2 linked regions of the Homo sapiens genome follow. The protein of the gene in region 1 purifies or fractionates together with the protein of each later gene. This does not show direct contact. Each region holds a gene or a part of one and is shown in the gene's direction. Other genes may lie near its edges.

The links. The genes of interacting proteins can lie anywhere in the genome.
Region 2: the proteins of SLC38A5 (region 1) and ANAPC1 purify together in Homo sapiens (affinity purification with mass spectrometry; one large-scale study listed by BioGRID and IntAct). This does not show direct contact.

What each region holds. Positions count from the first base shown.
Region 1 is NC_000023.11:48,459,332-48,464,891, reverse strand, and holds part of SLC38A5 (sodium-coupled neutral amino acid transporter 5), read left to right. Parts: intron 1-1,911; coding exon 1,912-1,994; intron 1,995-2,600; coding exon 2,601-2,659; intron 2,660-2,747; coding exon 2,748-2,885; intron 2,886-3,094; coding exon 3,095-3,174; intron 3,175-3,805; coding exon 3,806-3,906; intron 3,907-4,127; coding exon 4,128-4,243; intron 4,244-5,015; coding exon 5,016-5,160; intron 5,161-5,252; coding exon 5,253-5,356; intron 5,357-5,560. UniProt on the Homo sapiens protein: Symporter that cotransports neutral amino acids and sodium ions, coupled to an H(+) antiporter activity. Releases L-glutamine and glycine from astroglial cells and may participate in the glutamate/GABA-L-glutamine cycle and the NMDA receptors activation.
Region 2 is NC_000002.12:111,769,194-111,772,693, reverse strand, and holds part of ANAPC1 (anaphase-promoting complex subunit 1), read left to right. Parts: intron 1-218; coding exon 219-353; intron 354-1,559; exon of another isoform or gene 1,560-1,633; intron 1,634-3,287; coding exon 3,288-3,403; 3' UTR 3,404-3,500. UniProt on the Homo sapiens protein: Component of the anaphase promoting complex/cyclosome (APC/C), a cell cycle-regulated E3 ubiquitin ligase that controls progression through mitosis and the G1 phase of the cell cycle.

The sequences.
Region 1 (5,560 bases):
CACGATCTCAGCTCACTGTAACCTCTGCCTCCCAGGTTCAAGCGATTCTCCTTCCTCAGCCTCCTGAGTAGGTGGGATTACAGGCATGCACCACCATGCTCGGTTAATTTTTTAATTTTATTTTTTTGAGACAGAGTCTTACTCTGTTGCCCAGGCTGGAGTGCAGTGGCGCCATCTTGGCTCACTGCAACCTCCACCTCCCAGGTTCAAGCCATCCTTCTGCCTCAGCCCCCATGCTCGGCTAATTTTTGTATTTTTAGTAGAGACGGGGTTTTGCCATGTTGGCCAGGCTGGTCTTGAACTCCTGACCTCAGGTGATCTGCTTGCCTTGGCCTCCCAAAGTGCTGGGATTATAGGCATGAGCCACCACACCCGGCCAGTCTGACAATTTTAACTGAGTGCTTGATCTTTACTCTCTGTGTGTATCCTTTTAGATTTTTGGTTTGATTCTGAGAACACTAGATAGCTGATAGTGTGACCAGAGATGTCTCATTATTATAGTTAGCTCCCATTGGTTTATTTCTGTGTAACTGTATATGAGATAGAAAGAGACCATGTGAATGTCTAGAACATAGGCATTCAATCAAGTTGTTTTGAATGCATGAGCAGTTGTTCAGCTGATTCTGTCTTAACTGACTGTCTTGCCTGGTCACCTTCCTCCAATATCTGTACAGATCCCACCTTTTCTCAGAGCTTGGTTCCAACAGTGTGGCCAGCTGGATGATTTCGTTTCTATTTCAGTCTTTCTTTGGCTGTGCAGCCAAATCAGTCCACAGGCATACTTTCAGGCATCCAACAAACCTTGAGCTGTTCAAACAAGCATGCATGTGTGTTTCTGACTTTTTGATGGACTCTGCATCGTGGCTTGTCTACTGGATCATCAGACTGTTGCTCTACCTGTCAGACATACCACGATCGTGACTCACTCTCTTTGTGTCTGGCACCTTGTGTTGCACTGATTTTCTCCTTTCTTTCTTTCTCTTTCTTTCTTTCTTTCTTTCTTTCTTTCTTTCTTTCTTTCTTTCTTTCTTTCTTTCTCTCTCTTTCTTTCTTCCTTTCTCTTTCTTTCCTCCCTTCCTTCTTTTTTTTCTTTCTTTCTTCCTTTTTTTTTTTTTTTTTGAGTGTCTTGATCTGTCACCCAGGCTGGAGTGCAATGGCGCGATCTTGGCTCACTGCAACCTCTGCCTCCTGGGTTCAAGTGATTCTCCTGCCTCAGCCTCGCGAGTAGCTGGGATTACAGGCACGCGCCACCATACCTGGCTATTTATTTATTTATTTATTTTTTTGAGACAGAGTCTCCCTTTGTCGCCCAGGCTGGAGTGCAGTGGCGTGATCTCGGCTCACTGCAAGCTCCACCTCCCGGGTTCATGCCATTCTCCTGCCTTAGCCTCCTGAGTAGCTGGGACTACAGGCACTCCCCACCACGCCTGGCTAATTTGTTTTGTATTTTTAGTAGAGACAGGGTTTCACCATGTTGGCCAGGCTGGTCTCAAACTCCTGACCTTAGGTGATCCACCCGCCTCAGCCTCCCAAAGTGCTGGGATTACAGGCGTGAGCCACCACACCTGGCCTGGACTGATTTTTACATTGAGTCTGACTGATTTGGGGTGTTTGACCTTCTGGTTGTGCAACCACTTGCGAAGTCTGATGGCAAGTTTTGTCCAGCTGTGTATGTGTTAGCTGTGTCCCACTGATAGTATCTGACAATCTCATAATCAGCTTGACTGTTTTTGTCAACCCTATTGTGCCGTTTGTCACTGTGACCACCTGAATGACTTCTCAAGCTGAGGTTGTCAGCTTAACTCTCCTGACTTAGGGCAGAAAGCTGCCTGTCCAGCTGTCTTCTGTGAGTGTCTGCCTGACAGTTTCCTTTGGCTGGCAGCTAGGCACTGTGTCTTCCTGTCTCTCTAGGGACTGGTTCTTGAAGGGAAACCTCCTCATCATCATCGTCAGTGTGTTAATCATCCTGCCCCTCGCCCTCATGAAACACTTGGGTAAGAGGCTCCCTGGGTTGGCCATTGGGTAGTGGGATTAGACAGAAGAAGCCAGACTGAGAAAACCCCCATTCATTTTCAAGGGCTGCAGCACACTAGGAGAGAGCTTATTTGATGTGGGCTTGAACAGATTAGTAGGAGTTTGCTATGGAGGGGAGGTTTTTCTGGGTGGAAGTAGAAGCTTATGCAAAGGTAACTGGGGTGGGTAGACCTTGAAGGCTAGACTAGGTGTTTGGAGTTCACTGTTCCGGGGGTCCATTGATTTTTTTGTTTTGTTTTGTTTTTTTGAGACCGAGTCTCACTCTGTCACCCAGGCTGGAGTGGTGCAATGGCGTGGTCTTGGCTCACTGCAACCTCTGCCTCCCGGTTCAAGCGATTCTCCTGCCTCAGCCTCCCGAGTAGCTGGGATTACAGGTGTATGCGCCACCACACCCAGCTAATTTTTGTATTTTTAGTAGAGATGGGGCTTTGCCATGTTGGCCAGGCTGGTCTCGAACTCCTGACCTCAGGTGATCCACCCGCTTAGGCCTCCCAAAGCGCTAGGATTATAGGTGTGAGCCACCACGCCTGGCTGATTTCTGAGACTCTGTGTTTTGCCCCTCTTAGGCTACCTGGGGTACACCAGTGGTCTCTCTCTGACCTGCATGCTGTTTTTCCTTGTTTCGGTGAGTCACAGAGAAGCGGGGAGAGAGTTTGGGACATTGGGACATAGCTTCCTCCATGACCTGGCTTCCCTGCTGCCCCCATCCTCAGGTCATCTACAAGAAGTTCCAACTTGGCTGTGCTATAGGCCACAATGAAACAGCAATGGAGAGTGAAGCTCTCGTGGGACTCCCCAGCCAAGGACTCAACAGCAGCTGTGAGGCCCAGATGTTCACAGTTGACTCACAGGTGTGTGTGCAGGCATGTAGGAGATTGCATCACACTCAGGCCCTCTGGTTCTGTCATATGGTGCATCCTGCTCAGAGTGGAGCTGGATATTCGACATTGGGAGCTTCTATGTGTCTGATATGGAGGGCGATTACGGGGCGGGAGGGGGATGGGAAGAAGGGGATGGACCCCTGTTGGCTCTAATCCCATGTACTCGGGCATTCCCCTAGATGTCCTACACAGTGCCCATTATGGCTTTTGCTTTTGTCTGCCACCCTGAGGTGCTGCCCATCTATACGGAGCTCTGCCGGTGAGTGGGCAGGCAAGTGGGCCTGAATGATGGGCCAGCAAGTGGGGTGGTAACCAGAATGTCTGACACTCCCTACAGCAGTCCTGGGACTGTCACTTGGTGGAAGCTAGGTTGTGTCATGGGAGGGGTTTGGGGTGGCCAGGAGGTCTTGGGGCACTCAGGGTAGTGACTGTTTGCTGATTGGGGCTTAAGTATTCTCCTATTTTAATATCCAGCACAAATGTGGATGGACAGAGTTGGGAAGCAGAGATCAGATGATCAGATGGAGGGGGTGATATGCATGGCTGGTGATATGGGGATAGGGAGGTACGGACAGACAGAGGCGGAGGCAGGGATGATATGATGGGAGATGTGTGGATGATCAGACAGAGGGACAGCATGGATGGTCAGATGGAAGAGGCAGTGGCAGTCAAACGCAGGGGAGAGGGAGACAGTCATATCGGGGGAGATATGGATGGTCAGAGAGGGGATTTTGGCTAGTCACAGGGGAGGCAGAGACGGGTGTCCCCATGTGTGCCAGCTGAATGGCAGTCTGGGAGAAGGGGACTCTGGAGGGTGGAGGCTGGCTTTGAGGGACCTGGGGCAAGTCTCAGGGTCTGGGCATGACAGTTCCACGACCTCTACACCTCAGGCCCTCCAAGCGCAGGATGCAGGCCGTGGCCAACGTGTCCATTGGGGCCATGTTCTGCATGTATGGGCTCACAGCAACCTTTGGATACCTCACCTTCTACAGTGAGTGGGGCTGGGGCTAGGGCTGGGGGGAGGGGGAAGGCCTGGGGCAGGAGCCTCTGAGCTCTTTCCTTCTGTGACCACGGACCTGTCAGTTTCCAAACAGAAGGTGTGCCTCACTTGTGTGGATTTTGTCACTGTGCATGTATGTATGGGTTTCTGGGGCATTGGTCCTGGTGCTCTCTCCACATCCTGCATCCCGTACCCTCTGTCTCATGGCCCAGGCAGTGTGAAGGCGGAGATGCTGCACATGTACAGCCAGAAGGACCCGCTCATCCTCTGTGTGCGCCTGGCCGTGCTGCTCGCGGTGACCCTCACTGTGCCAGTCGTGCTGTTCCCTGTGCGTGGGGCCCACGGCTGAGAGGGACATGGATGGATGGGTAGAGGGCATAGGCATGGATGTGTGGGTCAAGGCTGGAAACAGGAGTGGATGGATGGATGAAGGAGGCAAGGATGGACAGACAGGAAAGGGCAGCGTTTTCAGATGGACAGAGATGGCAAAAATCGATAAACAGAAGTGGGGAGGACATAGATAGCAGGAGAGAGAGGGTCAGGGGACAGGGTAGTCAGTTGGAGGGAGGAGGCACAGATGGATGGCTAGAAAGAAGAGGGAGGCAGGAAGGGTCAGTTGGAGGGTAGAATTAAGAAACAGGGATGGACAGAAAAAGGGTGGAGGCTGAAGTGATGGGATGTAGGAGGGTCAAGTCTCCCAGATGGGGAGGCAGAACTAATTAGACAGAGGAGGGAGGTAGAGGTCAGATGGAGAGAGGCAGGGAGCTCACACAGGGTGGAAGGATCGGTGGATGGTCAGACAGAAGGAGAAGGCAAAGATGGTCAGCTAGAGGAGGAGGCAAGGATTTCAGACAGTGGGTGCAGGTGCCGATGGGTGTTCAGACAGAAGGAAGAGACGTGGATTGTCAGAGGATGGAGGCAGGAAGCCTGTTCAGAACATAGAGACACAGATGTTGGGTTAGGCAGGGTGGAGCCATAGATAGTCAGAGGGAGGGGAAATCAGGGATCTCAGCCAGAGGGTGGAGCTAAAGACAGATGATCACGTGGAAGGGGGGCAGCACTTGGGTCCTGACTTCTGTCCCACCCTACTCTGGCCACAGATCCGCCGGGCCCTGCAGCAGCTGCTTTTCCCAGGCAAGGCCTTCAGCTGGCCACGACATGTGGCCATAGCTCTGATCCTGCTTGTTTTGGTCAATGTCCTTGTCATCTGTGTGCCAACCATCCGGGATATCTTTGGAGTTATCGGTCAGTAAACCTCACCCCAGTCCCATACCCCATCTAATATGGGCCTTGTCCCCAAGTCAGGTTGACTCCTGTCCCTTCTTCTTGTTCTCCAGGGTCCACCTCAGCCCCCAGCCTCATCTTCATCCTCCCCAGCATCTTCTACCTCCGCATTGTACCCTCTGAGGTGGAGCCTTTCTTATCCTGGCCCAAGATCCAGGTAAGCATTCCAGGGCAGAGCTAGGGAGAGAGGGAGCACTCCAAGGAGGGAGTGCTCACTCCAGGATGGCTGGAGGTGAAAGGGACATGCATAGGAGGGGGCTGGGAGAGCATCTGAAAGAATGGTCTGGAAGAATGAAGGTGATTGTCTAGGAAGGGGCAGAGGAGACAGAGCACCAGCAGGGTCCAGGAAGACAGGGAGCAC
Region 2 (3,500 bases), on another chromosome or scaffold:
ATTATTTGTGTAATATCTGTCTCCCCCAACAACACTCTAAACTCTACAATGACAGGGACTCAGTCTAGCTTGTCAGAGTAGCCTCAATACCGGCTATAGAACCTGCTTTATATATGCTGAGCGTTCAATAAGTTCTTGATGAAAAAGTAATAGAAGATATTTCTTGTGCCTCTCAGTTCTGTCATCAGTTGGTTCCGTTCCATTTGTTTCTCTCACAGTCGGGGGTGATATGTGTGTGCACGCCTACCTCAGCGGGCAGCCCTTGGAGGAATCACAGCTGAGCATGCTGGCCTGCTTCCTCGTCTACCACTCTGTGCCAGCTCCACAGCACCTGCCACCTATAGGACTAGAAGGTAATTGCATATCTAAGTCTTATCTTCAGTAACTCTGTTACCTACCCCTTTATGTTCTAGTTTCTCAGTAGTTACTGCCCCTAGTTTGACTTTCCTCTTCATTAATGTTGCAGTGTCATTGTTAGGGACTGTTTTGGAGCAAAAAAGAAAAAATTATCAACTTTATATATGAATAACTTTCATTTTTATTCAGAAAAGGATGGATTCTTCTTCACAGAGCCCCAAACACTGATCTATACTAATAAACTAAATATTCCATATTATTCTTTACTAATTGATTTTTTTATTAAAGCTATTTTTCTTTATTTTCTAGGTTTTCAGTTGGGTTTTTTAGAATCACATATAATCTTAATTTCTAATATTACAAAGCTTTACAACTAATAAATACCTAATTTTGTGTTTGAATTTTTTTATAATAGTTTTAAAAATTAATAGTATTATCACCTGATTGTATTTTTCAGAATATAGAAACAGATAAAAAAAATTTATCCATTAAGCTGAATACTAAGATATGATGAATTCTAAGCACCCAATTTTTTTGAGATTCTCAAAAAAAATATTTTTTGATAAGGGCAAAGATTGTTCCATTTAATCATTTAAACTTGAAGTTTAATTACATTACTAGTTTTTTGCTGTTTTGCAAGCCTCTGATAAAAGTTTACTATCTAGAGACTTCTGGTTATGGCCATGATGGAATTGCTTGTATTGGACTCACTTGCCCTCAAAAACAAATATAAAAGCTAAAAAAAAAAAATAAGAAAAGGGAAGTACAACAGGGAGAGCTTTATATTCACCCTAGCTTCTCCCCCAAAGGCATTTGCCAGTTCATAGTACAAGAAGTAGAGTGCCAGCAAAAAGCAGCAATGCTGCAGGGCTGAGGAGCCAGAGGTTGGGTTTGTGATTGCCCAAGAGCCTAGAACTTGAGGAACACAGTCTCAGGCAGGAGAGAACAATAGAAATCATAACTCAGACTCTGGATATACCTTTCCCTTGAGTTACTTAATGATATTTTAGCCTTCATATACATGGGATAAGACTTCAAGAGATCTAGCAGAAGCCACAAGGCCAAAAATGTAAGCAAAAATGTCAGCAGCAGCATAGGACTGAGGAGACAAAGGGTGGAATTCAACGCTTGTTAAAGTGAAGTGGCTCTGATCAGCATCCCAGCTCCTCAGGTGAATTAATACATGGCCAAGCCCTAAGCCTGCTCTAGCCTAATTTTAGATCTGGTCTGCTTCAGTTTCACTCCAAGCAGACTTGACCTACAATTAGCCTAGAGCAGAACTAAGGTGATCTGTGTGCTTTCTCCCCACCTGACAGAAGAAAATGTAACCTTCATAGGAGAAAGAAAACATACCCAGAGCCCCCGCAATTTTTAGTCTACAGGATTCAGTGTTGAATCAAAAATTACGAAACATAATAATAATAAAAAAACAGATAATAGAAACAGACTTATGTGTGATTCAGATATTGGAGTTATCATACTGGAACTTAAAATAACTATGTCTAATGTTTCCAGGAAAATAGAAGGAATGATAGGGAATTTCACCAGAAACCTGGGGTCAATAAAAAAGAGTTAAATGGAAATTCTAGAACTGAAAAATATAGTAACTGAAATGAAGATCTCAGTACTGGATTATTTGAAGTGAACTGGAAGACACTTATCTGCTGGAAGACAAGTAGAAAGTAAACAAACTGAAGCACAGAGGGAAGAATGGTTAGGAAATACAGAGAAGAGTACAAGAGACATGTGGAAACCGTGAAAAAAAAATAAACATGCATGGGGTTGGAATAAGAGAATAAGAGGAGAGAAAAAATGAGTTAGAAGCAATATTTGAAGAGACAGAAGCTAAGAATTTTGAAAAATTGTGTTAAATATTAACCCACAGTGAACCCTAAGCAGGATAAATACAAAGAAAACCATACCTAGTCACATTAATAGTCAAACTACTAAAAGGAAAAGGAAGACATTTTAAAAGTATAGACTTCTTTTCAGGCCAGGCTGGACAAACAGGGTTGTTCAATGGTCAACTGTATTAGAACCAGTAAAATACCACTTAGATAGTATTTGAAGGTAGACAGGCACTTTTGCACATTATATTTAAAGAATTTATATATATATATATATATATATATATAAAATTAAACAATATTAGTAGTTTCACATGTAGTTATAGGTCACTTTCTGAAGTCTAGAATGGGTAAATTCTATCAAATCATATACAGGTTTGAGTATCCTTAATCTGAAATCTGAAGTGTTTGAAATCGAAAACGTTTTGAGCACCAACATGATGCTCAGAGGAAATGTTCATTACAGCATTTTGGATTTGGGATTTTTGGATTAAGAATGCTCAGCCGAGGCTGGGCGCAGTGGCTCACGCCTGTAATCCCAGCACTTTGGGAGGCCGAGGCGGGCGGATCACGAGGTCAGGAGATCGAGACCATCCTGGCTAACACGTTGAAACCCCATCTCTACTAAAAATACAAAAAAAATTAGCTGGGCGTGGTGGTGGGCACCTGTAGTCCCAGCTACTCGGGGGGCTGAGGCAGGAGAATGGGTGAACCCAGGAGGTGGAGTTTGCAGTGAGCCGAGAGAGCGCCACTGCACTCCAGCCCCGGTGGCAAAGTGAGACTTCGTCTCCAAAAAAAAAAAAAAAAAAAGAAAGCCAGTAGGTGTAATGCAGATATTCCAAAATCTAAAAAAATCCAGAATCCAAAACACCTCTCTTCAGAAGCATTTTGGAAAAGGGATACTCAATTTACATTACAGTGTATTAAGGAATTTCATAATTTTAAATATTGTCTTTGCATAGTCATTTTCAAAGGGAAAAATGCCTGTTTTAAACATGATTGTGTTTCTGAAGCTTCCTTGAAAGGAGAGGTATGGCTGAATTTATTTAGAGATGTGACCTTCCCACCCCATTTCCATTTTAGGGAGCACAAGCTTTGCTGAACTGCTCTTCAAATTTAAGCAGCTAAAAATGCCAGTGCGAGCTTTGCTGAGATTGGCTCCTTTGCTTCTTGGAAATCCACAGCCAATGGTGATGTGACCGTGTCTGGCGGTGAACCTACCCTGAAACGTGACTTCTGCACAACAAACGTGACCAAACATCAAAGCTAAAGCAATGTTTATAAAGTTTTATGGTA